Linked DNA regions of Homo sapiens. Each later gene encodes a partner of the first gene's protein in a complex. Each region holds a gene or a part of one and is shown in the gene's direction. Other genes may lie near its edges.

The links. Proteins that work in one complex are often made in the same cells at the same time.
Region 2: ACAD9 (region 1) and TMEM126B share a complex: the UniProt entries of both Homo sapiens proteins name them as parts of the mitochondrial complex.

What each region holds. Positions count from the first base shown.
Region 1 is NC_000003.12:128,886,120-128,889,619, forward strand, and holds part of ACAD9 (complex I assembly factor ACAD9, mitochondrial), read left to right. Parts: intron 1-3,500. UniProt on the Homo sapiens protein: As part of the MCIA complex, primarily participates in the assembly of the mitochondrial complex I and therefore plays a role in oxidative phosphorylation.
Region 2 is NC_000011.10:85,631,593-85,634,314, forward strand, and holds part of TMEM126B (complex I assembly factor TMEM126B, mitochondrial), read left to right. Parts: intron 1-94; coding exon 95-216; intron 217-2,493; coding exon 2,494-2,687; coding exon of another isoform or gene 2,688-2,713; exon of another isoform or gene 2,714-2,722. UniProt on the Homo sapiens protein: As part of the MCIA complex, involved in the assembly of the mitochondrial complex I. Participates in constructing the membrane arm of complex I.

The sequences.
Region 1 (3,500 bases):
CGAGACAGAGTCTCACTCTGTCACCCAGGCTGGAGTGCAGTGGTGCAATCTCGACTCACTGCAACCTCTACCTCCCAGGTTCAAGTGATTCTCCTGCCTCAGCCTCCCAAGTATCTGGGACTGCAGGCATGCACCACCACGCCCGGGTAATTTTTGTATTTTTAGTAGAGATGGGGTTTCACTATGTTGGCCAGGTTGGTCTTGAACTCCTGACCTCATGATCTGCCTTCCTCAGCCTCCCCAAGTGCTGGGATTACAGGCGTGAGCCACCGCGCCAGCTAATGAAAAATATTTTGAAAAATAATCAGGCCAGGCGCGGTGGCTCACACCTGTAATCCCAGCACTTACGGAGACTGAGGTGGGTGGATCACCTGAGGTCGGGAGTTCGATACCAGCCTGACCAACATGGAGAAACCTCATCTCTACTAAAAATACAAAATTAGCTGGGCGTGGTGGTACATGCCTGTAATCCCAGCTACTCAGGAGGCTGAGGCAGGAGAATCGCTGGAACCTGGGAGGCGGAGGTTGCGGTGAGCCGAGATCGCGCCACTGCACTCCAGCATGGGCAATAAGAGTGAAACTCTGTCTCAAAAAGAAAAAAAAAAGAAAAGTAAGTTAAAAAAAAAAAAAGAAAAAAATTGATGGAAAGAGTGACATTGGTTGAAAGTTATGCAAGTCCTTTTAATGTTTGGCTTATTAGAAGACAGCTGGATTCTCATACCTGTTTGTGCACGTAACCTCTGGAAAAGTCCACTGTGCAGTCTTTTTTTTTTTTTAACTGTCTTTTTTTATAATCTTCAGACATGCTTTTTGTTTGTTTGTTTCTGAGACAGTCTTGCTCTTGCTTTGTCACCCAGGCTGGAGTGCAGTGGTACGACCTCAGCTCACTGCAACCTCTGCAGTTGAAGTGATTCTCATGCCTCAGCTTCCTGAGTAGCTGGAATTATAGCACGCACCGCCACGCCTGGCTAATTTTTGTATTTTCAGTAGAGATGGGGTTTCACCATGTTGGCCAGGCTGGTCTTGAACTCCTGACCTCAAATGATCTGCCTGTAATCCAAAGTGCTGGGATTACAGGTGTCAGCCACCGCACCTGTCCTGACACGTGCATTTAAAGCAAGAAACACACACTTCCAGGACATAGGGCTCTGTCAGCAATAACTGTCATCTTTGTATTTGCAGAGATGTAAATATATAAGAAACCGGCTGGGCACGGTGGCTCACACTGGTAATCTTAGCACTGTGGAAGACTGAGGGGGGCAGATTGCTTGAGTCCCAGAGTTTGAGACCAGCCTAGGCAATGGAGCGAAACCCTGTCTCTACTAAAAATTTAAAATATTAGCCGGGCATGGTGGTGCGCGCCCATAGTCCCAGCTACTTGGGAGTCTGAGGTGGGAGAAGGTACCCAAGCCTGGGAAGTCAAGGCTGTAGTCAGCTGTGTTCATGCCATTGAGCTCCAGCCTGGGCGACAGGAGTGAGACCCTGTCTCAAAAAAAAATAAAAATAAAAATAAAAAAATAAATAAATATATATATATATATATATATATGCAAGAAACCACTGCAAACCAAACCCACTCCCTCTCACAGGAACAAAGGTCTCTTGGAATAAATAGCAAATGCTGGAATAAAAACTATGTTCATTCAGCTGCCATGATGTGAATTCAAAAAGGAAGTTAAATCCAAGGGCAAAGCAGAGAAAAGAACATACAAAAATACACCTATTTCATGTACATTCAAAGAGGAGGCTAATCACTGTGGACAAAGGGCCCTCTGGAATGACAGCTGTAGGCAGCCAGCAGTGCCACGGAAATAGAGGCACTGTCATCTGGAGACACAGAAAAATCACATCCTCCCACAACTGGCCTCTATGAAAACCAACCAGGACAGACAACCCTTCCCCAAAAGTAATGGCCAAGAATAAAAGCACAAATATTGCTGGAAATCCAAGTAGCCTGTTTTACTGCTTTGAGTGACTTATATGCAAACCTAAGACTTTTTTCTGAATCCTTGATCAAGATTTATTCATATAAAGGCCGTACATAAATTCTGGGAACATGGTACTTTGGACTATATATTGGACTCTGAGCCAAAACGTTAAATACACTACACTGCGCCCCACTGTACAGTCTTCAGAGAATTAGAATTTAAAAGCAAGTAACATCTTAAGTAGTTTTAGGCCAGGTATGGTGGCTCATGCCTGCAATCCCAGCGCTTTGGGAGGCCGACGTGGGTGGATCACTTGAGGTCAGGAGTTTGAGACCAGCCTGGCCAACATAGTGAAACCCTGTCTCTACTAAAAATATAAAAATTAACCAGGTGTGTTGGTGCCCACCTGTAATCCCAGCTACTGGGGAGGCCGAGGCAGGAGAATCACTGGAACCCGGGAGGTGGAGGTTGTATTGAGCTGGGATGGCGCCACTGCACTTCAGCCTGGGTGACAGAGTGAGACTCCATCTCAAAAAAAAATAAAAACTAGTTTTGATCCTGTGGGACCCCCTAGAAGCAGCTCAGGTCCCCCAGAACCTCTTTGAGAAGTGCCAAATTGTCAGCTGTCATTACATTGCTTGGTTTTTGTTTGTTTCTTATTTCACACCTGGTGATCACAAATTATATGTTGCTAGTTTTAAAAGTTGCTTATTTATATATAAACATAATTTATAATTTAGAAATACTTATTTCTGCTTTTTTTCCTAGTGTTTATCTTCCTATTTGTATCTTTTTTTAGCTCCCATAGTCTCTTGTTCTTTTATTTAAACTTTTCCTATGTGGTTTGTCAGGTTTTTTTTTTTTTCAGGTTTAATTAAGGAATAATTGATTTACAATAAATTGCACACACTGTCATGTGACACATAATGACATTCAAGTCAATGACAGACCATATATACAGTGGTGATCCCATAAGATCATCATACCATATTTCTACTGTATCTTTTCTATGTTTAGCTGTGTTCATATACACAAATACTTACCATTGTGTTACAGTTGCCTACAGTGTTCAGCACAGTAATATGCTGTACAGCTTTTTTGTTTTGTTTTGTTTTCCTTAAAAAAAAAAAAACAAAAAATATTTAACAGTGAGATGGGGTTTCACTGTGTTGCCCAGGCTGGTTTCCAACTCCTGGGCTCAAGTGATCCTCCCGCCTCAGCCTTCCAAAGTGCTGGGATTATAGGCATGAGACACCACGCCCGGCCTACTGTACAGGTTTGCAGCCTAGGAGCAATAAGCCATACCATATAGCCTAGGTGTGTAGTAGGCTCTGCCACCTAGGTTGTGTAAGTCCATTCTGATGTTCATACAGGGAGAGAATCACCTGACGCATGACTGTATTTAGAGAGTACCCCTCAGGAGCCATCAGTGCAACAGAGGAAGTGAACGTACTCATTACCCGTCAAAGTTTCCTTGTGCCTCTTTTATTTCCCCCCTGTTTCCAGGCAACTGCTGATCTGTTTTCTCTCACTATAGATTAGTTCGTATTTTTTGGAATTATATTATGTGTG
Region 2 (2,722 bases), on another chromosome or scaffold:
TAAATGTTTTCAAATCTGAATCTGTAGAATTCTGTAAGGTTTTATGTAATATGAATATCATTAGCTATTATGGCTCTGGAATTTTTTTTTCCAGGTTTTCAAGATGGCAGCATCTATGCATGGTCAGCCCAGTCCTTCTCTAGAAGATGCAAAACTCAGAAGACCAATGGTCATAGAAATCATAGAAAAAAATTTTGACTATCTTAGAAAAGAAATGTAAGAGAAATGCCCAGGCTGAAAATCAGTCATTTTATTTGCAAGTCTTTTGTATTGCCATTGTTTCTAAGATCCTATTCTTTCTTACCTTTTCTGTTATCTAAGATCCTATTCTTTGAGTTGGCTATGAAGAACACATCTTTAAAAAAAAGAATGGGGGAAACAAGAACAGATGAAAATGGTGGTTTGTTGGAATATTTCGGATTGTGGATAATTTCTTTTGTTTCTTAAAAAGTATCCAAAAGTATTGCTAAAACTTTTGTGCAGTAAATGTATTTTAATTAAAAGTAATTAGGAGAAAACCATTGAGGGGGGTACTTATATTTAATTGGTGAGTAATTATAATCAGTTTAGGATTGATTATCTCAGCCACAGTACTTAGTACAGCAAAAGGGAATACAGATTTCATGGTATAAATATAGTCTCACATTAACATATTGACTTTTTTTTTTGAGATAAGAGTCTCACTCTGTCACCCAGGCTGGAGTGCAGTGGCACAATCTCGGCTCACTGCAATCTCCAGCTCCCAGGTTCAAGTGATTCTCCTGCCTCAGCCTCCCAAGTAGCTGGGATTACAGGCGTGTACCACCACAACCAGCTAATTTTTGTATTTTTAGTAGAGATGGTTTAACCATGTTGGCCAGACTGGCCATTTTGACTTTTAAATGAACAAAGTTCAAGAAAAAAATCAAAGGACAGTTGATGTTATTTCCTGGATTTACATATGGGTCTTAATAAGAAAACTAAATCAGATTTTTTTGGATGAAGTTTTATAAATCTTGGACAAATTATTTTATTTTATTTTATTTTATTTCATTTTCTGTTTTATGGCTTTATTGAAGTATAATTTATATATCTTGACATTCATCCATTTAAAGTGTACAGTTATATGAGTTTTAGCAAATTTATACAGTTATGTAACCATCACCACAATTAAAATTTGGAATACTTCCAACATCCCCAAAAAGTTCCCTCATTCCCTTTTATTTTTTTTTATTTTATTATTATTATACTTTAAGTTTTAGGGTACATGTGCACAATGTGCAGGTTAGTTACATATGTATACATGTGCCATGCTGGTGTGCTGCACCCATTAACTCATCATTTAGCATTAGGTAGATCTCCTAAAGCTATCCCTCCCCTCTCCTCCCACCCCACAACAGTCCCCAGAGTGTGATGTTCCCCTTCCTGTGTCCATGTGTTCTCATTGTTCATTTCCCACCTATGAGTGAGAATATGCGGTGTTTGGTTTTTTGTTCTTGCAATAGTTTACTGAGAATGATGATTTCCAACTTCATCCATGTCCCTACAAAGGACATGAACTCATCATTTTTTATGGCTGCATAGTATTCCATGGTGTATATGTGCCACATTTTCTTAATCCAGTCTATCATTGCTGGACATTTGGGTTGGTTCCAAGTCTTTGCTATTGTGAATAGTGCCACAATAAACATACGTGTGCATGTGTCTTTATAGCAGCATGATTTATAGTCCTTTGGGTATATACCCAGTAATGGGATGGCTGGGTCAAATGGTATTTCTAGTTCTAGATCCCTGAGGAATCGTGACACTGACTTCCACAATGGTTGAACTAGTTTACAGTCCCACCAACAGTGTAAAAGTGTTCCTATTTCTCCACATCCTCTCCAGCACCTGTTGTTTCCTGACTTTTTAATGATTGCCATTCTAATTCATGTGAGATGGTATCTCATTGTGGTTTTGATTTGCATTTCTCTGATGGCCAGTGATGGTGAGCATTTTTTCATGTGTTTTTTGGCTGCATAAATGTCTTCTTTTGAGAAGTGTCTGTTCAGGACAAATTATTTTAAATGTATCTGGGACTAATGAAGAAATAGAAGGCCTAACCAAATGTAAACAGCTTTTTTTTAGATGAACTTAAGCAAAGTAAATCTTTTAGTTGCAGGAAAGGTATTCTTGGATTTGGGTAGCTCATAAAATTTGGCTGCATTGGAACATATTTATATTTATTTGTGGCCAAAATTATTTAAAAGAGCTCTATTTTAGAATTACTGTAAATATTCTTAGAAAGAGAATCATGTCCTCTCATTAGAATACAAGTTCTATGAGGGGTGGGAAATTTCTTTTTTTCTTTTGCTTTGTTTACTGTCCTATCTTAAGCACTTAGAAAATACTTTTCACATATAGTAAGTGCTCAAGAAATATTTGATATTGATATGCAATAACAACTTTTCAGGAGAGGCTGTATCCATTAAGTTCAATGGTATAGTGAACTGAATTTTTCTTTTTTTCTATTAGGACACAAAATATATATCAAATGGCGACATTTGGAACAACAGCTGGTTTCTCTGGAATATTCTCAAACTTCCTGTTCAGACGCTGCTTCAAGGTTAAACATGATGCTTTGAAGACATATGCATCATTGGCTACACTTCCATTTTTGTCTACTGTTGTTACTGACAAGCTTTTTGTAATTGATGCTTTGTATTCAGGTGAATTTAAATTCACTAATGTATAACGTAGTTAT